Linked DNA regions of Homo sapiens. The protein of the gene in region 1 interacts with the protein of each later gene in a pairwise test. Each region holds a gene or a part of one and is shown on either strand. Other genes may lie near its edges. The genes, in order: TTC23L, COL26A1, VPS9D1 and ZNF784.

What was found.
Region 2: the proteins of TTC23L (region 1) and COL26A1 interact in binary tests that used the Homo sapiens proteins (3 or more experiments, as listed by UniProt).
Region 3: the proteins of TTC23L (region 1) and VPS9D1 interact in binary tests that used the Homo sapiens proteins (3 or more experiments, as listed by UniProt).
Region 4: the proteins of TTC23L (region 1) and ZNF784 interact in binary tests that used the Homo sapiens proteins (3 or more experiments, as listed by UniProt).

Annotation. Positions count from the first base shown.
Region 1 is NC_000005.10:34,842,138-34,849,168, reverse strand, and holds part of TTC23L (tetratricopeptide repeat protein 23-like), read right to left. Parts: intron 7,012-7,031; exon of another isoform or gene 6,063-7,011; intron 3,683-6,062; coding exon 3,496-3,682; intron 1-3,495.
Region 2 is NC_000007.14:101,365,844-101,372,874, reverse strand, and holds part of COL26A1 (collagen alpha-1(XXVI) chain isoform 1 precursor), read right to left. Parts: intron 1-7,031.
Region 3 is NC_000016.10:89,706,624-89,710,919, forward strand, and holds the end of VPS9D1 (VPS9 domain-containing protein 1), read right to left. Parts: coding exon 3,963-4,296; intron 3,326-3,962; coding exon of another isoform or gene 3,284-3,325; coding exon 3,154-3,283; intron 2,813-3,153; coding exon 2,604-2,812; intron 2,334-2,603; coding exon 2,234-2,333; intron 1,909-2,233; coding exon 1,804-1,908; intron 1,332-1,803; coding exon 1,238-1,331; 3' UTR 511-1,237; downstream 1-510.
Region 4 is NC_000019.10:55,621,559-55,629,459, forward strand, and holds the start of ZNF784 (zinc finger protein 784), read right to left. Parts: upstream 3,009-7,901; 5' UTR 3,004-3,008; coding exon 2,926-3,003; intron 1,087-2,925; coding exon 193-1,086; 3' UTR 1-192. UniProt on the Homo sapiens protein: May be involved in transcriptional regulation.

The DNA.
Region 1 (7,031 bases):
TTCTTCATACATTAGCTGGAATAATTCTGTAAGGAGAATTTCTCCTCCTCCACTCTTTGGTTACCCAATAGTACAGTTCATGTTGGAAAGGCAGGACACATGGTTTATTCTTGCCCTTTACTAGCTTTCAGAAAAATGAATTGTTCACTAGCATCCTCTAATTGTGATCAAATAGCTTGTTATTATTATTAGAAACTTATGGATTTTAAAACGTATTTTATGTGTTTATATCTTAAGATATAAATTAGATCATGACTTTCCTGTTCAAAATCCTCCAACAGCTTCCCGCTTTTTCTTCTTAATATAATTCAAAGTCCTCACCATGGCTTCCAAGGCTCTGCATAATCTGACCCAATGCCAATCACCTCTGGACTTCATTTTCTACCACCCTTTCCTCCTACTCTGTCTGCTAGAACTACACTGACCAGCGGTTCCTGAACATCACCAGCTAACTTCCAATGTAGGGCTGTGCACGTGCTGCTCCCACTGCTTGGGACACTCTTCCATGTCATTCACTTTCTCATTTCATTTTCACTTTTCTTATCAACAGGCCTTTTTTGGCCACCTTATCTAAAATAGACACCACTTCATCACTCAATATCCCATTACCTATTTTACTTTTTCTTCATAGTACTTACTTCTATCTAATATTTTATTAGCTATTACTATTGTTTGTCTATTATCTCCCCAAATAGAAGATAAGTCCCTTGAGGACAGAAGTTTATTCCTCATGTTCGCTGTTATCTGCCCAGTACACACAGGTGTAACACATTCAATATTTGCTGAATGAATCATTTATTAGCAAGGTTAAAGATGGGTTGGGGAAAATAATCCTCTACCCCTATAGAAATGACAGGTAGAGCTCTCTAAGAAATCACCGAACTGTATCTTCAAGTCATATATTTCAGTGACTTTACAAACACAGCCATTATTGGCTGAACGAGTCGATAGGGTCAGGCATTTTTTTCCTGGTTAAGTGAAAATAGCACTTCAAGGAACCAAAAACCTAAAGTTTCAGCCCTGGTTCTAATGTTTGTTTACTGATTGTGTTGCTTTGGGGCAGGCCACTTTGATCTCAGCTTCCTTTTCTGAGGTTTGGAAACCTGTACCATCTACCTCATGGAGTTACTGTAAGGAAAAAAAAATAGTGTCCAAATGATTCAGTGTTGTTAGGTCAGATCTAAGTGTAACCCGTTTGAAGAATAATGTACAGGTAACCAAAGTAACCCATTTAAAGAGTAATGTTAGATAAGATACAGCAGTACCATAGGTTATTCCAAGGAATACACTCCTTACTGATTCCTATCTCCTACCCAACTTCATGTTTTACCTGCCCCCTGCTCAAATATACAGAAGCAAGCAATGGTAGAAGGAAACTTCCCCTGATGCTTCCAAAACATCCATTTAGTCAGCATTTTTTAGAGTTCACCATGGGCTGACCACAGCAAATACTAAGTTCTCTTTCGAGGAAGAAGCATCATGCCATGAAAAAATCACTGGAATGGGAGACCAAAGCTTTGGCTCTGGACATTGTATATTCATCCTCGAACTCCTTGACTTGGAGAAACCGGGACAACCAATACGGGCTCCAGATGTCATCCCAGCACTTCTGCTGCTGATGTGGCATCCCCTGCCCTTCAGGGCTAGGAGTACTAGGTTGGGTTTGATTTAAAAAAAAAAAAAAAAAACAGCGTTATTGAGCTATAACTGATATACAAAGAACTGCACCTGTTCACTTTATACAATTTGATGAGCTTGGGATTTGAGTCAGATTTCTCTCCTAAGATCTAAATCTTTGTCATTATCCAATCTGGCCAAGGAGTTTTTAAGCCTTGAAAACCCCCACTTACACTCCATGGCAGATGGTACTTGTGTGTTTTTAGAAATGATCCTTCTAGCCTGGATTTGTGAATCACTAATGGGTCCAGGCCAGGATGACTGTCCTTTGCAAGGTCCTTGGGTCATTTACAGAGATAAATTTACAAATATCCATCTAGAGAGATACTTCAGAGGCAAATGATAGAAAATGAAACCTCTCTAGATTACTTTTTTCCCCTTGGCTAGGAGGAGCCAGGAAGTCAAGGTACAAGCTCTTCTGTTGATAAATCATGCTCTGGAAGCAGGCTGGTGCCTGTGTTCTAATAATGAGAGTCGACGTCTTGCTGTCTCAGTCTCCTGGATTTTGAATACTCATGCTTACAAACCTGCTCTGAGATCTTTGACTCAAGTCTTTGACTTGCTCTTAGAAATGCATATTTGGAATCTTTGACCTCCACTGCTACCTTCTGTTTCTGGCCCTTTGGTTTGTTTATGATTCCACTGTAACCAAGGGCATCTTACCCATATCCTTTCCAGGCCAGAGCTTAGACCTGCCTGCCTACCTGTTCTCAACCTCCTGCCTTACTATCCCAGCCTTTTTGTTACCTAAGAGATAGCATCCTGAAACCTTCCAGGATGGATACACACACACACACACACACACACACACACACACACACACATACACACATATATGTATTTGTATATATACGTATATATGTATATGTGTGTGTATATATATGTGTGTGTATATATATATATATATATATATATTTTTTTTTTTTTTTTGAGACAGAGTCTAGCTGTTGTCGGCCCGGGCTGGAGTGCAATGGCATGATCTCAGCTCACTGCAACCTCTGCCTCCTGGGTTCCAGCAATTCTCCTGCCTCAGCCTCCCAAGTAGCTGGGATTACAGGCATGCGCCACCACGCCTGGCTAATTTTTGTATTTTTAGTAGAGATGGGGTTTCACCATGTTGGCCAGGCTGGTCTTGAACTCCTGACATCAGGTGATCTGCCCACCTTGGCCTCCCAAAGTGCTGGGATTACAGGTGTGAGCCACCACGCCCAGCTATTTTTTTTTTTAATTTTAAGTTAAAGGTAACAGCAACAAAAACAATCAAATGATAATTTTTAGGTTTTTCAAATTTTTACTTTATTTTCTTAGAGACACAGTCTCATTCTGTTACCCAGGCTGGAGTGCAGTTGCACAATCACGGGCTCCCTGTGGCCTCAATTTCCTGGGCACAAGCTGCTATCCTGTCTCAGCTTCCCAAGTAGATGGGACTACAGGCTCCCTCCACCATGCCTGGCTGATTTTTAATTTTTTTTGTAGAGACAGGGTCTCACTATGTTACTCACGCTGGCCTCAAGAGATCCTCCCGCCTCGGTTTTCCAAGGTGTTGGGATTACACGCATGAGCCACTGCACCTGGCCTAATTTTTAGTTTAAAGCTAGGACCAGAAATGCCCCAAGGAGGAACAGACAATGAACCATGCATGGAACCAGAAGGTGGGCTGGCTACCTAAGTAGGCTCTGCTTTGTTTTCTGCTACTTACAAAGAAATATGACACCTTCCTCTATTTCATATGCTTCAATCTGCATCGAAGGCAAAGCTTCTCTAAACAGGAACATATTTTTAAATGGAAACAAAATTTTAGTGAGTTTTTTGTTTTACCATTTTTTCCTTAATCAGCTGAGCTACTTTCTTCTGGGATTGGGCTAATTTCTCTTTGGGATGAGACATACAGTCTATGGCCTTCTCCTTCTCTTTAGCTTTAGTTTCCTCTTCACTCTCTCCACACCCACCAGTGGGATACAACTCATCTGTTTGCTGGTGAGCTGGGATCTCGGTTTGCTGTGACCTGTAGGTATGAGAGAGGCAAGGATTCAGGATTTAACCTTCTCCATCTCAAACAAGGTAAAATTGAAGGGCATAGCTCTCCCAACTAGGGGATAGGGACATGATTTCTAACATAAACCGGAAGGAATAAAGCTAGGCAGTAAACTCACGTCGCCCTCAAAGCCTAGCATTAAGACAGCAATGTGGTAGTTCAGAAGAAGCCGATTTATAGAGGTACAGCTCTGCTGCTTACTAATCACATGACCCTAACCAAGTTATTAATTTACTTCTCTGTAAAATGAGAATATGGATGCCTACTTGATGAGGTTATGGGATTAAATGAGATAATACTCATAAATCAGCACAGTGTGTGACATTCACTAAGTGTTCCTTTCATGTTAGCTATTAGTATATCATTAGCTCCAGGACAGGGCTTCTTCTTCTACAAATGAGGGTGTTGAACTGGAGGATCCCCAGGAATATCTGTGTTCTAAAATTCTGATCCAAGCAAGGAAAGAAAATGGATACAATGAAATAAGGGAAAGGAAACCAACATTTTGAGGCTGGACTTTGCATGTCTTCTCATATCTTAAAAGCTTCAACATGTGGTGGCCAAGAAAAGAGGACACGGGTCCCACCAGAGACAGGGAGGGAACCCCACGCTACATCAAGTGCAGATTCAGAGGAGAAATATCCCTAGTTGTGTTAAAAAGAACTATATCCTAACATCACCAGAAAAATCAATAAAGTGCTACAGAAGAAACAGAATTTTGAGATCTTAGGAGCAACGGTAGAAATTTTAAGTATAAATAAGTCTCCCAAAGGACTCATCTTTATACTCACAATAACTCAAAAGTTCAGCCACTGAGTAGTTTTTAAAATAAAATTTACTTTTCTTTTCCACTGATTGCTTAAATAGTGAATGTTCAATGTTTAAATAAAAAGAAAATTCAGAAAAGCACAAAAAGCTTAAAGAGTGAATGTTCAATGTTTAAATAAAAAAAAAATCAGAAAAGCACAAGAAGAAAATAACTGCCAAGTGTAACCTTTTTTTTTTTTTTTTTGCTGCTGCTGCTCACTCTTTGGGTCTGTGCCACCTTTAAGAGCTGTATGCCAACTGTAATCTTTTACACCAGGTTTGAAAAATGACATGCTAATATCCTTCTAGAGTTCTATTCTAATTAACTTATCAAGAGGCACGTGGGCAAACCAGGTTGTGTAGATAGGGAAGCAACATTTCTTGAGGCCCAAGCGCAGGCAGGCTTGCCTTCTGCCCACAGACGAGTGTGCTTTCAGTAGACAAGCTAATTTGATGGGACAGCCAGGGAAGGTTGGGGATGTGACCTGATCAGAAGACAGGTGATGAACTTCCTTTTCTCTGCCTGGTGAATTCCATACTCCTCCTTCGAGACACAACTCAGATGTCATCATTCCTGGAAGTCTTTCACTGGAGTAGCAATAAAGGCAGCCTCCAAAGGGCTTTCAAAAATTTCCCCCAAACTGCTAGTACACTGTGATTTTTTTTTATTGTTGTTTGATTTTTTTATTGTTGTTTCTTTGGTTTGTTTCTGAGTCTTCTTTGCCTGCTGGCAAAGTAAACTCCAATACGGCAGGGGCTGAGCCTCATTTGTTTCTGAAAACCTGATATCTGGCTCATAGTAAAAACAAATAATGGCCTGTTAAATGATGAATAAATGAATGAGAAAAGAATGTGCAGTCTTTAGAATGTTTGAAAAATATTGAGGAGAGAGGAAATCTGTGGCAAGAGATCATAAGTCGGCTGACTCTGGGCATGCTGCCTATGAGCTAGCCCTGTTCTGCAAGGGGCAGTTAAAAAAAAAAGAGATCATATCTCAATAGCAAATTTTGCTTAAGCTGCATATTTCACAGACCTAGAGCAGAAGTTAAATCTATTGGAGTCACCAGATTGCTAATTATGGATAGTAAAAATTATAAGCCCGAAATATTTTAAATTAAGCCTTGAATAACATTAAGGTAAGACCAAAGGTGGCAAGCTTCAACCTCAGGGACTTCAAAGGAATGAGAAACATTGAGGTCTTGACAAATGATTTGAGAATGTAAATCCCTGAACTAGCTTTGAACATCATGTTATAGAAGGTGAGAAAGATGGCTGGAGAATCCTGACCAGTCAGACATCTCAAAGGATGGTCAGAATAAAAAGAATAGGAGGTTGAATGGAAGGTCTGCCTTGCCAGGTTTATAATTGATTCCATATGTTACCATCATGAATAGGAATTCTGATTAGTAATGTTCGATATAAATTATCCGATTATTTCCCAGATATTTTACTGTGAACTTGACATTTTTATGAACTTCAATTTTTATAGTCATATAACCCTTAACCTTAAGATATTTTATGAATTTAAACTTATGCTATCCAGGCCAGGCACAGTGGCTCACACCTCTAATCCCAGCACTCTGGAAGGCCGAGGTGCATGGATCACTTGCGGTCAGGAGTTCGAGACCAGCCTGGCCAACATGGTGGAACCCTGTATCTCCTAAAAAATACCACAGTGAGACTGTAATCCCAGCTACTCAGGAGGCTGAGGCATGAGAATGGCTTGAACCTAGGAGGCGAAGGGTGCAGTGAGCTGAGATCACACCACTGCGCTCCAGCCTGGGTGACAGAGCAAGACTCTGTGCTGGGAGCCGAAGGCCCATGGGATGTGACCAACTCAGCATTCCACTGGAGACGATATGATCAAACAGCAAACTGTTTATCATGAATGCAGGATGTGAGCAAACTCACGAGTGCTCCTGCCGACAGAGGGTTTGCTGGAGGCAATCACTCCCTAGCGCTGAGGTTATCTACTGTGACATCTAGAGCCTGTTGTTTGAGGAATGAAGTCTTGCAAGCCTACTCTGGACTAAGCAGCTGACCCCTTCTTCCACCCCCCTTCTCACCATCTCTTTTGCCTAATAAATACAGAGGGCTGTGTACAGCTCAGGGCCTTCGTCCACTAGAGGCAAGGTGCCCCCTGACCCCTTCTTCCAAGTATACTCTTTTGTCTCTTGTCTTTTATTCCCACATTCACCCCTCCTTTGTTCAGTCCACCAGGGATTGTGGCAGGTTACATAGGGGCCCCCCAAACAGCAACAGAATCTGGTGCTCCACAACTCTGTCTCAAAAAAAAAAAAATGCTATCCAACTTGGTAACTACTAGCCACATGTGGCTATCAAGCACATGAAATATTGCTGGTCTGAATTAAGATGTGCTGTAAATGTAAAATATGTGCTGTATTTTAAAGAGTATAAAAAGATAAAATATTTCATTAATAATTTTAGCATATTTTGTATATATTGAAATAAAATATAGTATTGAAATTAAATTCATGTGTTTCATTTCACC
Region 2 (7,031 bases), on another chromosome or scaffold:
TACAGGTGTGTTCCACCACACCTGGCTAATTTTTTATTTTTGGTAGAGACGGGGTCTTGCTGTGTTGCCCAGGCTGGTCTTGAACTCCTGAGCTCAAGCAATCCTCCCACCTTGGCCTCCCAAAGTGCTGGGATTACAGGCATGAGCCACCACATCCCATTAGTCCAGCCACTCTGAACTCAGTCCCACTAACTATATGTCAGGCAATAGCTAATGACACTTCCAAGCCTTTACACAGTTGTCTGTCTGCCCAGAATGCCCCAGTCACTGCCTCAAGCTCTCCTGTTCATCCTACAAAACCCACCTCCTATGTTGACTCCTCTGAGAAGTCCTCAACATTTAGTCTCTATCCACTAGAACATTTCCCTAAGTATGTGGTCAGGAACACAATCCTAACAAAATGCTCCCCAGAAGGCCAGGTGCGGTGGCTCACACCTATAATCCCAGCACTTTGGGAGGCCAAGGCAGATGGATCACTTGACGTCAGGAGTTCAAGACCTGGCCAACGTGGAGAAACCCCAGCTCTACTAAAAATACAAAACTTAGCCTGGCATGTTGGTGGGCGCCTGTAATCCCAGCTACTTGGGAGGCTGGGGCAGGACAATCGCTTGAACCCTGGAGGCGGAGGTTGCAGTGAGCCAAGATCGCACCACTGCACTCCAGCCTGGGCAACACAGCCAGACTCCGTCTCAAAAAACAAAATGCTCCCCAGAAAAAGATTCCAAGGCTTCATATATTTGTGGAACTCCCCCGTCCTTGCAACCTTTGCAAGGCATATGAATGCAGTCCACGGTCACATTCATGAACAGAGGGTTTACTATCCTTTTTCCTAAGAACATTATTAATATTAACCCATGTAAGCCCCAGAACAACTTAATGAAGTACTGAAGTCATTCCCATTTTACAGATGAGAAAACTGAGGCACAAAGACTCCCAGGCTCCCACAAACCCTAACTCCCCTAGCTCACTTTGCACACATTTGTATCACACCAAATTCCACTCTTGCTCATGGATCTGTTTTCCCCAACCAGTCTCTGAGCTCATCAAGGACGGAGGCTGGGTCTGAAACATCTCACTGCCCCAGAGACAGGGTCTCACTCTGTCACCCAGGCTGGAGCGCAGTGGTGTAATCATAGCTCACTGCAGCTTCAACTTCCTGGGTTCAAGCGTTCTTCCCACCTTAGCCTCCCAAATACCTGGGACTACAAGTGTGCACCACCATGCCCAACTAATTTTTTAAAGTTTTTTTTTTGCAAAGACAGGGTCTGACTATATTTCCCGGGCTGGTCTCAAACTCCTGGGCTCAAGTGATCCTCCTACCTCAGCTTCCACCAGGACTACAAGTGTGCACCACCACACCCAGCTAATTTTTTAATTTTTTTTTTTTTTACAGAGACAGGGTCTGGCTATGTTGTCCCAGCTGGTCTCAAACTCCTGGGCTCAAGTGATCCTCCCACCTCGGTCTCCCAAAGTGCTGGGATTAAAGGCATGAGGCACCATAGCTAATCACAGTTGCCAATTCTTGAATGTAGGGAACCAGAGAGCAAAGGCAGGGGTCCAACACTGCAGAGGCATGCAATCCAGTCGGAGGGACAAGTCCCCATGGATGTGATCATCCACTTCCCCAGAGTCTGCTGAGCTCTTCCTCCATGCAGGCCACCAGGCACAGCCCCCTGCCTTCACGTTTGAGTCCCCAGCCTCTACCCTACCTACACGTGGGCTCAGTGAATGCAAGGTGATTAAATGCCTGACCTGGAGCGGCTCACATTTCCAAGAGGCAGTGGTGGGTGGTGGGCAGGGCTAAGCTCCAGCTCATGCACGCTTGCCCAAGGACGGCTGCTCAGAGCCACTCCTGTAGGGAGTAAATGAGGAAGGAGAAATGACTCCATCTGCAAGGAGGGAAACTGGGGAAGTGAGTTCTAGAACCAAAACCACAATCACAGATGCAGGGGCTACCCACAAATCACAGGTGCAGGGGCTACCCACAAATGAGATGAACAGAAAGCTGGGAGGTAAATCCAGAGAGACTTCCTGGAGGAAGGGTGCTTGTGGTTCTACCAAAAGAGGGGGGAGTCAAGGTAAGAGGGAGGCATTTTGAGTGAGGAGGGGACACACCAAGCACTTTGGCTTAGACGAAACCACAAGAAAGTGAATTCAGAGACAGAGAGAGTTTGAAGCAGCAGGTATAGATGAAGGAAAGGTGGGCAGGGTGCAGTGGCTCATGCCTGTAATCCCAGCACTTTGGGAGGATGAGGTGGGCAGATAACCTGAGGTCAGGAGTTCGAGACCAGCCTGGCCAACATGACAAAACCCCATCTCTTCTAAAAATACAAAAAATTAGCCAGGCATGGTGGTGCATGCCTGTAATACCAGCTAGTCGGAAGGCTGAGGCAGGAGAATCGCTTCAACCTGGGAAGCGGAGGTTGCAGTGAGCTAAGATCGTGCCACTGCACTCCAGCCTGGGCAACAGAGCCAGACTCCGTCTCAAAAAACAAAAACAAAACAAACAACAACAACAAAACAAACAGTGTGTCAGCTTGATTTTATACTTTTAAATATCTAGCCAAATGGTGAATGGTCTTCATCTTTAGTCTTGCCCCAAGCCCCAAAAAGGTTAGGGGTGGCCAGGACTTGCAGGTGCTATAAGATCAGGGAAGTCTATTCTTACCCCTGAAAGGCCATATCAACCAGCATCATTTAAAATGTCCTCTTCAGGCCAGGCGCGGTGGTTCATGCCTGTAATCCCAGCACTTTGGGAGGCTGAGGCGGGTGGATCACCTGAAGTCGGGAGTTTGAGACCAGCCTGACCAACATGGAGAAACCCATCTCTACAAAAAATACAAAATTAGCCAGGCATGATGGCACATGCCTGTAATCCCAGCTACTACGGAGGCTGAAGCAGGAGAATCGCTTGAACCTGGGAGGCGGAAGTTGCGGTGAGCCGAGATCATGCCATTGCACTCCAGCATGGGCAACAAGAGCGAAACTCCATCTCAAAAAACAAATAAATAAAATAAAATAAAATGGACTCTTCAAAATGTACCCCAAGAAGAAACTGCTGATGGGAATGCAAAATGCTGTAACCCCAGTGGAGGGAAACTTGACGCTATCTAGCAGAATTAAACATGTGTTTGCCATTTACCAACACAAGTGTCTATCAGTAGAGGACTAGCTGAATAAATACAGTCACTCACACTGTACAGAACAACAGACCCATAAAAATGGATGCAGAACTCTACTAAAAAAAAATACAAAAATATTAGCCGGGTGTGGTGGCGGGTGATTATAGTCCCAGCTACTCAGAAGGCTGAGGCAGGAGAATGGCCTGAACCCGGGAGGCAGAGCTTGCAGTGAGCCGAGATTGCGCCACTGCACTCCAGCCTGGGCGACAGAGCGAGACTCTGTCTCAAAAAAAAAAAAAAAAAAAAAAAGATGCAGATTACCTTTGCTTTATTTATTTATTTATTTAAGACTGAGTCTTGCTCTGTCACCCAGGCTGGAGTGCAGTGACGTGATCTCAGCTCACTGCAACCTCCACCTCCTGGGTTCAAGCAATTCTCCTGCCTCAGCCTCCTAAGTAGCTGGGATTACAGGCATGCGCCACCATGCCCAGCTAATTTTTGTATTCTTAGTAGAGAAGGGGTTTCACCATGTTGGCCAGGCTGGTCTCGAACTCCTGACCTCAAGCGATCCACCCACCTTGGCCTCCCAAAGTGCTGGGATGACAGGCGTGAGTCATCATGCCCCCCCATCTTTGCTTTTTGATAGAGCCATCTCCACAACACGTTATGATGGAAAAAGGCCAAGTTGAAGACAGAGTAACTAGCATATTACCTCTGTGTAAGAAAAGGAGGAGGATACAGACACAAACACACACATACTCATACACACTGTTACGCTCACACACACACATACACACACAAATTGCTTACATTTGCAAAAAGAATTTTTTTTTTTGGAAAGAGCCAGATTTTGAGTGAGTTTTTTCTACCTACAAATAGTAAATAAGGGGGAAATTATAAGTATTCTAGCAATTACGAATTTTAAAAAGAGTCAAAATTATAGTACTACTTTGAAGTAGGAGGCGGGACTTGACTCTGGAGGTTGGGGTTGACACCGGACCAAATTGAGGACTAGCTAAAACAGGTTAGGACGAAGCACATCCCCATAAGACTCACTCACCAGGGCACCATGTCAGTTACCATTTGCCAGGGCAACACCCGGAAGTTACCATGCCTTTCCATGGCAACAACCCAACAACCTAGAAGTTACCACCTTCATCCTAGAAATTCCTGCATAAACTGCCCCTTAATTTGCATATAGTTAAAAGTAAGTATAAATAGTGCCAAACTGCCTCTGAGCTGCTAGTCTGGGCACACTGCCTATGGGGTATCCCTGCTCTGCAAGGAGCAGGACCTCTGCTGCAGCTGTACACTGCCACATCAATTAAAGTTGCTGTCTGAAACCACCCACTCACCCTTGAATTCTTTCCTGGGTGAAGCCAAGAACCCTCCTGGCTAAGCCCCAATTTGGGGGCCTGCCTGTCTTGCATCCACTTTGCGATCCTTAATGAAAGAATGACATACGCAATGATCACCAACACCTCAAGCATCACGAGAGAAAAAGAGAGACAACCAGACGTTGTGATTTCCAATGGAAAAACACTACAGCACCCAAGATGTAATTCTGCCAAAATAGAAAACGAAGGAGGAGGAAGAACTAGATCCAACCAAGCTCTTGATCTAATTTCCCATTATCTGGAAATAAAGAGGACAGATGAACATGTTCACAGGCACCATGAGCATATAACCAACAAAATCCTGAAAAAGGAACAATCTAGAAGGCCAAGTTTCTTCAACAAATAAATTGCAACAAAAAGAAGGGAGACAGTGGAGGAGACTTGTAGACAGTGGTGTTCTGCTGAATATTTAACACCCAGCTTTCCAGAATAAAGCCACATCCTTCTGTTAGTCAGCTCAAGGTTGCCGTAACAGAATACCACAGACTGAATGGCTTAAGTAGCAGACATTTATTTCTCATAGCCCTGGAGGCTGGGAAGTCTAAGATCAAGGTGCTGGCAGATTCAGTTCCTGGTGAGGGTTCTCTTTCTGGTTTGCAGACAGCCACCTTCTTGCTGTGCTGTGTCCTCACATGGCAAAGAGAGAGAGCTCTGATTTCTCTTCTTCTTTTTTTTTTTTTTTTTCTTTTTTGAGACAGAGTCTCACTCTGTTGCCCAGGCTGGAGTGCAGTGGCATGATCTCAGCTCATTGTACCCTCCGCCTCCCGGGCTTAAGCGATTTTAGTGCCTCAGCCTCCCAAGTAGCTGGGACTACCGGTGTGCACCACCACGCCCGGCTAATTTTTGTATTTTTAGTAGACACGGGTTTTCACCATGTTGGCCAGACTGGTCTCAAACTCCTGACCTCAGGTGATCCACCCACCTGGGCCTCCCAAAGTGCTGAGATTACAGGCATGAGCCACCGCACCTGGCCTCTCTTCCTGTTCTTATAACATCCCTAATCAAATAATGGGGCACAGCCCTCACAACTTCATCTAAATCTAGTTACCTCCAAAGGTCCCCCCTCCAAATACCACCACATTGGAGGATAGGGCTTCAACATATGAATTTGGTGGGGACACACACATCAGTCCAGAGCATCTCCTGATATAATATGGTAGACTAGACCACCTATGAAGAATTTCTGTCTCTCCCAGCAAGCCCAAATAGAGACCATAAATCTAATCAAACCTTCCAACCTAACTTCCAAAATAGAAGAGATACAGGGGGCAGAGGATCCAATTAATTACACCACTGGGAAGCAATTAGTCAAAACTAGTACGTGGACATTGCAGATCAAGTTAACTACACCACTGGGAAGGAAATAGCTAAATCTAGTACGTGGACATCGCAGAGAACAACTGGTCTTCAACAAGTCAACAGCGTGGAGGAAAAAGTACTCTCTCAAAGGGGGAAGACTTTCCTACACTAAAAGGGAGAGAAAAGACAGAATAACCAATAAGCAGACTTATTTAGATCCTGATTTGAACAAACTAACAATTAAAAACTGCTTTTTGGCCAGGCACAGTGGCTCACACCTGTAATTCCAACACTTCGGGAGGCCAAAGCTGAAGGATTACTTGAAGCCAGGAGTTCAAGACCACCCTGGGCAACATAGCAGGACCCCACCTCTATGAAAAATTTAAAAGTTAGCCAGCCATGGTGGCCCATGCCTATGGTCCCAACTACTTAGGAGGCTGAGGTGGGAGGATTGCTTGAACCCAGGAGGTCGAGGCTGCAGTGAGCTATGATTGCACCATTACGCTCCTGCCTGGGTGACAGAGCAAGACCCTGTCTTTAAAAAAAAAAAAAAAAAAAAAAAAAAAAAAAAAAAAAAAAAAATCAGACGTTAACAAGGAGCAGTAACAATGAAATTAAAGCACTCTTTGTCAAGAAACAGCCCTGTCATCATTGCCTGTCAACTGAAGCCAAGCCCCGGTAAACACACTACTGAAGGCCAAGGCTGCAAGGACCACTGCTGTCCCCAAGCCTTCAGCTTCTGGACATCTTGGATCTCAAGGACAAGGGACACTTGTGATAGATAGCTCATGAGACACAGAAACATGTGACGCCCAAGCCAGCTCCAGCCTGTAACTCACCCAGGCAACAACCAGGTGCCTGCAATGCCCACGCTGGGCTTTCTGGGCAAAGAGACTCAGTCACACTCTGGAATATCAATGTGCCCCAAGCCTCCCCAACACCTTCTGGTATCCTTTTTAGGAATCCATTGCCCACAGATTCATCCACATCCTCCCTAAACCTAATTATATCCTCTCCCTGTTCTTATCCTGGTGGAAAGAGTTCTGGAAGATTCCACACTTGTTTGAGCCTCTTTTTGTTTGTGCTAAAATGATCCCTTCCAAGTTTCTGCAGATGTCCCCAAGTTCCAACCCACCAAATGCCAGAATGAGGTCCCCATTCGCTCCCGCTCTTCATGGTCCTCACCTCTTGCTTTTTTGCAGGCGTATTTCAG
Region 3 (4,296 bases), on another chromosome or scaffold:
CACCAGCCCTGCCACCTGCCTCCTCATGGCATCTCAAGGTGCCAGGGGTGCCTTTCTTGCAGAAGAGCCCTCCATCCTGATCTGCCCACACCGCCCTGGCAGATGCTGTCCACGCCCGGCAGCCTTCTGTGCACCTCAGAGCATGTGTGTGTCGCCATGCACAGAACGATGATTCCTGAGACCCTCGGGTGACTGCTCTGGGCTCAGGTCCCCAGTGATGACCTGGACCCCAGCCTCACCCCACCCTTCCCACCCACTGATGCCCTGCAGAGCTCTCCTGTCCAAGAGGGTGAAGCCCACACCTGCCTGGCCAGGCACAGCCCCAAGAGGACCCTGCTTCTATGCAGAGGGTCTCGGAGGCTGGCAGATGTTCAAGAGGTTGGGCCAGGCTTGGTTTGGGGCTGGGCTGTGGCTCGTCCCCCACATCCTCAGCGGCCTCTGCCATGGGCAGCAGGGGTGGTTGTGCTGCCTGGCCAGTGGGGTGGGGATTGAGGGAGCCACACGGCGAAGCACAGCAGTGAGCTCTTTATTTTAGGCTGGGTGGGGGCAGCATGTGACAGTCAAGAGGGCTGACCCTTGGGCTGCACGGACCTAGATAAGATGCCCAGGGTCCCGGAATGTTCACAGCCCACAGCCAAGGTGAGTAAGGGGCAGGGAATGTCCTGGGCTCAGAGCCCGAGACCCTGCAGGGGTGTCCCTGCCCATCAGCAAACAGCATACCCTGACACCAGCTGCACCCCAGGCCCCAGCCGGCCCTTGTTCCTGACCCAGACAAGAAACTAGTTCATGGGGCTACAACTCCCCTTCTAGGGGTCAGAGGGGAGAGAAACTGGACTGCCGTCTCCACTGCTGGCCGGCTCATGGCCCCCTCTTCCCTGATGCTCCCCAGGAGCTGCCCCAGCCAGATGTTCATCGCTGAGCCTGCACCCACCGAAGCCCAAAGCTTCCCTTCTTGGCCTCTCTGAGGCCTACACAGGAGAGCAGGGCCTGGTTCCTCCTGGAGCTGATTCAGCCCCATTCTGTCGGGGCAGAGGTGCCAACCCCAAGCTCCAGGGTCAGATGTGAGGTGAGGAAGGTGAAGAGCTGGAGAGCACACCACAGTGGACAAGCCCCCACCATGTGCAGAGCAGCGTGAGGCTCCAGGATGGTCCTCAGTAGATCCCATGGCTCCAGGTGTAGGAGAGACAGCCCTGGGAGGCGAGGCCAGGCCCTGCAGGGACCCTGGGCTCTAGCTGTACTACTTGGCCAGGCCTCCCCGGGGCAGCAGCTCCACGTAGCTCAGGGCACTCTGCAGTGATGTGAGGCAGTAGCCCTCCTCTCCGATCAGGTACCTGCATGGATGGCAGGGGCAGCCGGTGTCATCTGAACGAACAGAAGGATACCCCCGGCCCTCCAGAAGGTAGTGTCTGCCCTCCCAGTTCAGGACCTGGGTGCTGAGGGTGGGCAGGTGGGGCTGTCAGGGCGGCTGGGCTAGAGGAGGCCTTTCCCACCCACTATGTGCTCGTCCTTGGACGGTAGAGCCAGGGATGGCACTGGATCCTTATCCCCTCCCCAGGCAGATGCTGCTCAGGGGACAGCCCCCAGCTCCTGCTGTCTGGGAGAGGCTGAGCTAAGCGAAGGGCCACGGGACATGTGGCAGCAGGCACTCTGCACAGGTGGACCCACAGGGGCTGCCCGAAGGCATGGCTGTGACGGAGCCACACGCTACCCTCCCCAGCTGCTACTGACAACCACCGTTTAGGTTGAGGGATGAGGTCCCTGCTCTTCGCACAGAGACCCCCACCCTGACCCGCCAGGGTCTACCCCTCGTGGATGAACTCCTCCAGGGCCGCGCACTCCGACACCAGCTGAGGGAGGCCGCTCCTCAGCACCACGAAGGACAGGATGGGCAGCAGGTCATCGGCACCACTGTCGGGAGGGCATAGCGGCCTTGGGTTGGGGCCAGGAGCCTCTCACTCCGCAAACCCAGCAGCTGTGGAGCCATCCTGGCCGTGCTGGCCGCCATCTCTGTGCCCTTCTGCGCAGAGGCACCGGAAGGCAGCTGGGCATGGTGAGGCTGTCCCTAAAGGGAGCTCCCGTACTGCGGAGCCAGGGCTGGGCCCACACGGCCCTCCTGCTTCTACAGTGCAGCCAGCTGGCACAAGGCTAAGGGGCAGGAAGATAGTCCCTCCCGTGACCATTGCCTTTCTAGGGCCCTTCCTCCCTGGCCACACCTCGCCCTCCTGGGACTCACATGGCAGCTGCAGCGATGGGCGGGGGCCCGGCCTGGGGTGTGGCCTCTGGGGTGGGGCAGTAGTCTTCCGCACAGACACAGATGATCCGCAGGGTCCGCACTGCGCCCCAGACAGGGTTTCAGGGGCAGTTAACCCCGTCCAGCAGCCTGAGCCACCCCTTATACCCCGCCCACCCACCCACCTCCTGATGTGCACGGCTGGGAAGAGCCACGGTGACCCTGGCGATGTTGCTCAGACACCACTTTTGTTCTGGTCCCCCAACCTCCCCACCGGCACGTGACAAGAGAAGCTCAGTGGTGAAGACACAGGCTCCAGGTCACCTACTGGGATGGGAGCCTGTCCCTCCCCCTGACTCTCGAACCTGCTGACCTATGCACTCCAGCTTCTTCTGGGGGCAGCTCTCCAGGACCAGCAGTCCGAGCTCCTGGGCCGCCGCGCAGTAGGGGTAGCCAGTGGCCCCCTTGGCCTCAGGGTTCTGGGGGAGGAGCTTGGTGGGGATGCCAATGGCGGTGGGGGGTGCATTCCTGTAGAGCTCCATGCTCCTGCTCAGGGCAGCCTCCCGGGCTCGGTGCACGCTCCTGGGGCAGAGAGAGGCCAGGCTAAGCTGCCCCAGGGACCTTGCCCTGGGGACAGAAGCAGGGCTGTGGCTGGAGCTCAGTCCTGGAGAAAACTGGCTATGTATCTCAAGCAAAAAGCCCCAGCGTTGCCAAGACCCCAGGCACGGGAGAGTGGCAATAATCCTACCTGCAAACTGGAAGCCCCTGAGGATGGCCTCAGGGTAAAGCACAGGCTAGGGGGAGCAAACACGAGTCTTGGGGATGGAGGGGAGCAGACAGTGCCAGGGAGCAGGGCAGGCCTCCTGGGGGACTGGGCTGGAAGACACTAGGCCACGCAGGTGGTTGTACAGCTGGGTCCATACCTGTACAGGGCCAGCAGCAGAGGCCACAGCGGGGAGAAAAAGGGTTCCTCAATGCAGGCCAGGCAGCGGTCCTTGGAGGCAGCTGTGTTTAGGCCTTCGAAGGCCAGAAGGGTCAGCGAGAGCAGCCTGTCTGCTAGGAACAGAGCCGGGGACGTCCACAGAGGCTCCTCCCCTGCTGGGTCAAGTGGCTCTAAGCCACGGGGCCTTTCTCCGCCCAAGAAACCTCTTTCCACCGCCTTCAAGCCTCCTGCACCCACCCCTGACCCTCCTCGGCCCAGGGCAGGGAGTCCGGGACTGGAAACGGTCACCTACAGCTGCTGCCCTGTTGGGCCAGCAGCCTGAGAAGAAACCGGAGAATGATCCTTTTCTCAAAAGGGGCTTTACCCAAAACTGCAGGAACCAGGGAAGACTTTAGATCCAACCCCCTGTGGGTGGGGACCCTGACCAAGTTCCTTAGTGTGTGGGCAGCACAGTGAGAATGACGCCTGGACTGTTGGGCCTCCCTCAGTGGTTCTTAGAAAACTCTGGGCTGGGCGCGGTGGCTCATGCTTGTAATCCCAGCACTTTGGGAGGCCGGGGTGGGCAGATCAACTGAGGTCAGGAGTTTGAGAACAGCTTGACCAACATGGTGAAACTCCGTTTCTACCACACTGTTTCCAAAATGAGAAGGGCTGAGGCGTGAGCTGGGTGGATGTAAGTCTGATCAGAGTCTCTGATCAACAGACCCTTCCCCAAACAGAAGCTTGAAACGGACCAATAAGCAGGGGTGAAGAGCTGCGGCGGCTCTCCCAGGGAGGGCCTGGCCTCACCTACGGCATTGTGGATCTCCTCCACCGCGGTCTTCAGCTGCTGCAGCTGGGGCTCCGGCTGTACCCCACGGCCCCGGCCCTGCCGCTCAGACGTCCCCAGGAACTGCTCCAGGTCCTCGAACGAGCTGTCCTTGTCTGGCAATCCAGATGCGGTGTCCCCCAGGGGTGAGGGAGACCCCACGGGGCCGGGTTGGAGTGGGGGCGTGGGGGGACTGTCCTGGGGCCGCGGGGCTGCGCTGGGCTCGGGCGGGGACAGCATGCAATGGAGGCTCTGCGAGGGCCGCAGCCGTCGGCTTCCGGGGTTGGGGGTCGGGGGGCAGCAGCCTGGGGCTGG
Region 4 (7,901 bases), on another chromosome or scaffold:
GCGTGTGGGAGTCTGGAGCCTGGCCCTCTCCCTCTGCTCTCCATCACTAGCGGCTCACAACCATCCCTGCAGCTGTCATCTCTCCCCCAATCTCCCCTCTTCTGTCCCCTGCCTCCGTTTCCCCACCCCGTCCCCCTCCCCGGGTCGGCCTCGTACCTCCGCCTTAACTAACCCATGTCCCTGGTCTGCAGCCTACTGGTCGGCCTCCACCTTCACCTTCGCGGTCTCCCCCCGCCCCTCCTCCGCAGGGTCCCCTACCCCACACCCGCTCCCCGACCCCTCAGCCGCCGACGAGCCCAGCTGGCCTCCAGAGTCTCCCAGCCCCGGCCCCGGCCCGTGGAAGTGGGTGCGCTGGTGCTTGCGGAAGTTGGAGGAGTTGTTGAAGGTGCGGTCGCAGAGCGTGCAGCGGAACGGGCGCTCGCCAGTGTGGATGCGGGCGTGGCCGCTAAGCACCGAGGACTGGGTGAAGCCCTTGCCGCAGATGCCGCAATGGTATGGCCGCTCGCCAGTGTGCACGCGCTCGTGGTCTCGCATGTCTGAGGAGCGGCGGAAGGGCTTGGCGCAGAACCTGCAGGCAAAAGGCTTCCCCACCGCTGCGCCCGCCGCCGCCGCCGCCATCACCACCTCCGCCCTCTCCGGGGCCACCCCGGGCCTCTGTTCTGCAACGGCCGCTGTGTCCGGAGGCCTCCGAGAGGTGCCCGGCTCCACCCCGTGCCGGTGCTGGTGCCGGAGCAGGGGCGCCAAGGCCTTGAAGGCGCGGGGGCAGAGCGCGCAGCGGTAGGGCCGCTCCCCCGTGTGCAAGCTGTAGTGCGCGCGCAGGCTGGCGGGGCCCGGGCAGCTGTGGCCGCACACGTGGCACCGGCTCGGGTCCCCACCCTGCCCGCCTCCCTCGGCCCCAGCCAAGTGGCCATGTTCGTGGAACAGCAGCTCGGAAACCAGCCGGAAGGCAGCAGGGCACAAGGCACAGTGGAAAGAACCTGGCTCCGGGGGCTCAGGGACCAGCGTGGTGTCCGTCACCTTCACCACCTGGATCTCGATGAGGTCACTCGGGGGTGTGCCAGGCCGGCAGTCATCAGGCACCAGGACCTGGGCAAGAGGAGAAGAAAGAGGAGCCTGTGGAACCTGCCTCAGGACCGCCCCAGCACGCCCCAATTATTAAAGCTTGGGCTCCTCTGTTATTTTCAGACAGGGCCTCACTCTGTTGCCCTGGCGCGATCGTGGCTCATTGCAACCTTGACCTCCTGGGCTCAAGCGATCCTCCCACTTCATCTCCCTGAGTAGCTGGGATTACAGGCATGCACCACCACATCCAGCTAGTTAAAAAAAAATTATTTCTGGCTGGGCACGGTGGCTCAGGCCTGTAATACCAGCACATTGGGAGGCTGAGGTAGGCAGATCACCTGAGGTCAGGAGTTCGAAACCAGCCTGGCCAACATGGCAAATACCGTTTCTACTAAAAATGCAAAAATTAGCCAGGTGTTGTGGCTGCTGCCTGTAATCCCAGCTACTCGGGAGACTAAGACACGAGAATCGCTTGAACCCAGGAGGTGGAGGTTGCAGTGAGATGTGATCATGCCACTGCCCTCCAGCTCAGGCGACAGAACAAGACTCCATCTTAGACAGCAAAACAAACAAAAATTATTATTATTATTTTTAATGTAGAGGGAGTCCCACTATGTTGCCCAGGCTGGTCTCCAACTACTGGGCTCAAGAGATCCTTCTGGCTCTGCCTCCTAAAGTGCTGGGATTGCAGGCGTGAGCCGCCGCGCCCGGCCCATCCTCCAGGATTCTGTTGTATCCTCATCAACATTTCCTCTCCTGTCCAAAATATATCATGGATCCCACCTTTTGTCCTCCACCCTAGTTAAAGCCCCATCACTTGGCGCCTCCAAAATTGAAAAACCCAAGGGCATCTCTGTTCCTATTTCTGCTGGCTTGTAACCCACCTCCCAGGAATAGCCTGAAGGTCTTTTGAAAATGTAAATCAGATCAAGTCATTTTTCGCACTCAAAACCCTCCAGTGGCTCCAAATGACTTATCCCAAATCGTCACTATAATATCTGTGGCGATGTAGCTCCACTTATCTCTCTGACCCCAGCTTAAACATAAGCCGGCACCCAGCTGACTTCTCTCGTCTAAATTTAGCTGCCCCACCCCTACTCTTGGCTCAATTTATAGAAATTGGCTCAATTTTTATTTCCTTTATAGAACATATCACAGTAACTCTCCTTTATTGTCTCTCTCCTCTCAAGAGACTGCAGGCTCCAAAAGAACACAACCCTTGTCTGTCTTGGTCACTTCTCTATTTACAGAGCCGAAGTAGGAGCTCAGTAAATGTTTGTTGAATGAATGAATGTCCTCAATTAGTCTAATTCTGAGTGGGGTAACGTGGAGGAAGTTCCAAAGTCACCTAGACCACCCACTTCTACCCCCAAATTCTCCCTTGGGCATTCGAGAAGCATCACTAAGACCCTTGAAGAATTATCCCCTACCCCGACATAGGTGCTCCAATCATAATCCCCCACGTTTTTCAGGGTCACCTTCCCAACCTTCTACCCTAGAATTAGCCCTAGAATTTATGAGGCCCCGCCCCTTACAAGGCTCCACCCAAATTATGCAAATTATCCCTGGTAAGCCCCCTTCCCTGGACCCAAACCCGTCCCACAAGACAACACCGTCCTCAGACTCCGCCCCCATCCAGGCCCCGCCCACCACCCATAGGTCCCTCCCCCACCCCGCCCACCATGACATAGTCTCCTCCCCTGCCCCGCCCCTCGCGAAACCACAAGAAGCCCCACCCCCAGGGCCATAGCACTAAATACCTCCCTCGCCCACCCCCTCATAGGCCACGCCCCGGACCCGCCCCCCACACTACGACCTCCTCCCACCTCGAGCCCCACGCCCAGGCCCCTTCCTTGCCCGCACCAGGTCCAGTGGCTCCTGGGATCGCGACTCCGGAGTCGGTGAGCTCCGACTCTGGGCCTCTGGGCGCGCAGCGGCCATCTTGTGCCCAAGCCCCGCCCCCAAGGCCAATGTTCGCTCTGAAAGGGGGTGGGGCTCGAACTGGCGTAAGAGCTACTGCGCAGGCGCAGTGCGGGGCTGCGAGGGGGCGTGGTGCAGCAGGGGGCGTGGCGGGGCGGGGCGTGGCGGCTGAGCCCGGGAGAATGTGAGTTGTTCCCTCTCTAATTACCTGTCTGTCCCTCCGAGGGTACGCTCTGTGTGGCGCTAGGATGCCTGTAACACCCTGGGAACAAATCCGAACGTTCCTTCTAAACCAACGCAGGCCGACTCGAGGCTCTGGCTGTCAGGGGAACCTCAGCAGAACTGAAGAAGCTTTGCTTTGTTTCCACGGTAAACGTTTTTGTGATTACCTCTGCACTGCTCATGACAACGTAATGACGCCAAGTTTATAAACGTCGGTGTAGGCCGGGTGCGGTGGCTCATGCCTGTATTCTCAGCTACTCGGGAGGCTGAGGTGGGAGGATCGCTTGAGGCCGGGAGGTCGAGGCTGCAGTGAGCCATGATCTCGCCACTGCATGCAGCCTGAGTGACAGAGACTCTGTCAAAAAAAAAAAAAAAAAAGGCAGTGTGGAGAAAAATATTCAGTAAACAGCAACACAGGTGGTCCTGGGAGGACGCAAAAACCCGCAAGCTGATGTTATGTTTGGGAGGAAAGAGCTCAAAAACGCGGGGTTTTCAGCAGCATCAAGGACGGGGCTCTTCTTAGCTGCCCCGTTTAGTCATTCTGGTGGTATCACCTTGGATAAGTCACTACACTTCTCTGGACCATTTCTCTTTCTTTTGTGTAGCACTGTAGAAGCATTGTGACAAACCACTGAGAAGAGACATGGAAGAGTTTGGAAACATCTTTAAATAGTTTTCTTGAAAGGGCAGGATAGGAGATACTTAAACATGATCCTAAGCATGATCATTTCATTCATAAATATATATGAAATTATATTTTGTGATATGTTGGTATAAAATAAAGATAAACACCACTTAGGCTGAATTATCTCCTCCTCCTCCTTTCTTCTTCTTTTATAGAGATGGGGATCTTGCTGTCTTGCCTTGCCCAGGCTGGTCTTGAACTCCTAGCCTTAAGCGATCCTTCTGCCTTGGTCTTCCAAAGCTATATTTCCCTTCTTTTCTTTTGATTTTAAAATAATTTTTTTTTTTTTGAGATGGAGTCTCACTCTGTCGCCCAGGCTGGAGTGCAGTGGCATGATCATGGCTCACTGCAACCTCTGCCTCCCGGGCTCAAGCGATTCTCCTGCCTCAGCCTCTTGAGTAGCTGGGATTACAGGTGCCCGCCACCATGCCCGGCTAATTTTTGTATTTTTAGTATATACAGGGTCTCACCATGTTGGCCAGGCTGGTCTCGAACTCCTGACCTCAGGTGATCCGCCCACCTCGGCCTCCCAAAGTGCTGGGATTACAGGTGTGAGCCACTGCGCCCGGCCTAAAATAAATTTTTAAATGTTGTGGGTCCCTAAGAGTATCATGGGCCCTAGGCACTGTATCTACTACTGTGTCTAATGCTTAAGTCAGCTCTTTCTGTCCAGGTTTCCTAATTTGCAAAATGAGGGTGATAATAAAACCTACTTTACACAGTTGCTATGATGATTAAAGAAGTCATTATATATAAAGTATTTTGGACAATGTATGGCACACAGCAGGTGCTATGAGTTAGCTATAATAATTACTACCATTTGGCACTCCCACTAGCAATAAATAGGGACCTTTGTTGCTTAACATTCCTATCAATATCTGATACTCAAACTTTAAAATGTTCGCTAATCTCTTGGGTGTGAAATAATTTCATTTCTTTTCTTTTTTTTGAGAAACAGCCCAGGCTGGAGTGCAGTGGCGTGATCTCAGCTCACTGCAACCTCCACCTCCTTGGTTCAAACAAATTTCCTGCCTCAGCTTCCCAAGTAGCTGGGACTACAGGTGTGACACGTCATTACGTTATCGCAAGTGGTGCAGAGGTAACCACAAAAACCTTTACTGTGGAAACAAAGCAAAGCCTCTTCAGTTCCGCTGAGGTCTTCCACTGACTGCTAGAGCCTCGAGTCGGCCTGCGTTGGTTTAGAAGGAACGTTCGGATTTGTTCCCAGGGTGTTACAGCCCAGCTGATTTTTGTATTTTTGTTTTGTTTTGTTTTTTGTTTTTAGTAGAGACAGGGTTTCACCATATGTTGGCCAGGCAGGTCTCAAACTCCTGACCTCAGCTGATCGGCCCGCCTCGGCCTCCCAAAGTGCTGGGATTACAGGCATGAGCCACTGCGCCTGGTCTATTTCTTATTGAGAAGCTCTTTATTAAAAGAGATCATTCATAGCACCCAGAACTCATCCTCCAGTTTCCCTTTTTTGAGAGCTGGAAGTATGTCATCTCTGTATCCCCTCTGTACATCCCTATAGAGAAGGCATGTATATGGCTCAGTGAGTGTTTGGTGAATGAATGAGTGAGAAATTGAATTCATGCAGATAGAAGAACTTTGTACCAGAGCTTAAGGCTATTGAGTATTTTTTCCCTTTTTTTTCCTCCCCACCCCCACTAAAGCTATTAAATATTTGCAGAGGAGAGCACTGTTTAGTGGAATTACCATAAGCTTTCAAATCAGGCAAACCTGGGTCCAGATCCGTTTATCTGCTTGCTGTGCAACTCTGGGCAAGCAATGTCTCCTCTAAGTGTCTAGCTGACATCTACAAAGTGGGCACCATAATGTCATTTGGCAGGGTTGTAGTTAGAATGCCACTGATTGAGAATGCCAAAGGTCTGTGTGATGCCTGGAACCAACTGGTGCTCAATAAATGTGGGTTCTGCCTGGGCTTGGTATTCTCTACTAAGAATACAAAAATTAACATGCACAGTGGAGCACGCCTGTAGTCCCAGGAACTTGGGGAGCTGAGGCAGGAGGATTGCTTGAGCTTGGGAAGTTGAGGCTGCAGTGAGCCAAGATCACACCACTGCACTCTGGCCTGGGTGATAAAGTGAGACCCTGTCTCAACAAATAAATAAACATAAAATAAAATAAATATAAAATTTTAAAATTTAAAAATGAATCTGGGTTCCTTGCCTTTTCACCTGTTGTCTGGCTTCTGAGTCCCTCGGTACCTGGCATAACACTAACAGGCTATTGCATGACTTGAGGCTAGAAGCCCTGCTACACGGAGCCATTAGACAATTGCAAGAAGATTTTAGCCGGGCGTGGTGGTGGGCGCCTGTAATCCCAGCTACTCGGGAGGATGAGGCAGGAGAATTGCTTGAACTGGAGAGGCGGAGGTTGCGGTGAGCCAAGATTGCACCACTGCACTCCAGCCTGGGAGACAGAGCAAGACTCCATCTTAAAATAAAAAAATAAAAAAATAAAAGAAAATGCCAGGAAGAGTCTTGGACTTGGAATCAGATTTGCCTCGCTTCTCTCCATCTCTATCTTCCTGTAAAACCTGAGCACTTCACTTCTCCTCACGGAGCCTAGATTTCCTGCCTTTTAAAAGAAATTGGCTGATAGAATTAGCTAGATGGCTCTGCAGTTCCTCTCCCTTTCATTTTTCTATGTGCCCAAGAAAACTGAAAATATACATTCACACAGAAACTTGTAAACAAATGCTATTCATAACAGCCAAAAAGCAGAAACAGCCCAGATGTCCATAAACATAAACAACATGTGGTATATCCATAGAGTGGAATATTATTTGGCCATAAATGAATAAAATACTGATCCACATGACAACATGGATGAACCTTTAAAGCATTATGCTAACTTAGAGGCTGGGAAGGGTGTGTGGTGGAAGGAGGGATGAATGAAGGTTGGTTAATGGGTACCAACATAGTTACAGAGAAGACATACTTTTTTTTTTTTTTTTTTGAGATGGAGTTTCGCTCTTGTTGCCCAGGCCGGAGTGCAGTGGCTCGATCGCGGTTCACTGCAACCTCTGCCTCCCGGGTTCAAGCGATTCTCCTGCCTCAGCCTCCTGAGTAGCTGGGATTATAGGTGCCCACCACCACGCCCAGCTAATTTTTGTGTTTTTAGTAGAGATGGGGTTTCACCATGTTGGCCAGGCTGGTCTAGAACTCCTGACCTGGTGATCTACCCGCCTTGGCCTCCCAAAGTCCTGGGATTACAGGTGTGAGCCACCACGCCCAGTCCGTGTATTTCAAAGTAGCTAGGAGAGAGCACTTGCAATGTTCCCAACACATAGAAATGATAAACACTCAAGATGGTGGTTACCCCAAATGCCCCGATTTGATTTGATCATTACACATTCTATGCGTGTAACAAATACATGTACCCCAAACTCTGTAAAATATTATGTGTCAATAAAATAAAATTTAAAAATATATTAAGTGAAAGAAGCCAGGCACAAAGGACCACATATTATTAAGATTCTATTAACACCAGAATAGGGAAATCTATAGAGGCAGAGTGTAGCTTTGTGGTTCCTTAGGTTGGGTGGGGATAGAGAGTTGGGGGGAAGGAAGAATAGAGGAGTGATACCTAAAGGGCATGGGATCTCTTTTTGAGGTGATGAAAGTGTTCTAACGTTGACTATCATGATATGTGCACACAACTATGAATATACTGACTATTGAATTATACACTTTAAATGGGTGAATTGGGTGGGGTTCAGTGGCTTCCGCCTCTAATTCTAGCACTTTAGGAGGCAGAGGCAGGAGGATCCCTTGAGCCCAGCAGTTCCAGACCAGCCTGGGCAACACATCATGACAGCCATCTCTACCAAAAACCAAACAAACAAACAAAAACAAAAAACAAAAACAAAAAAAGCCCGGTGTAGTGGTGCATGCCTGTAGTCCCAGCTACTTAGCAGGCTGAGGTGGGAGGATTTCCTGAGCCCAGGCGGTTGAGGCTGCAGTGAGCCATGACCGTGCCATTGCAA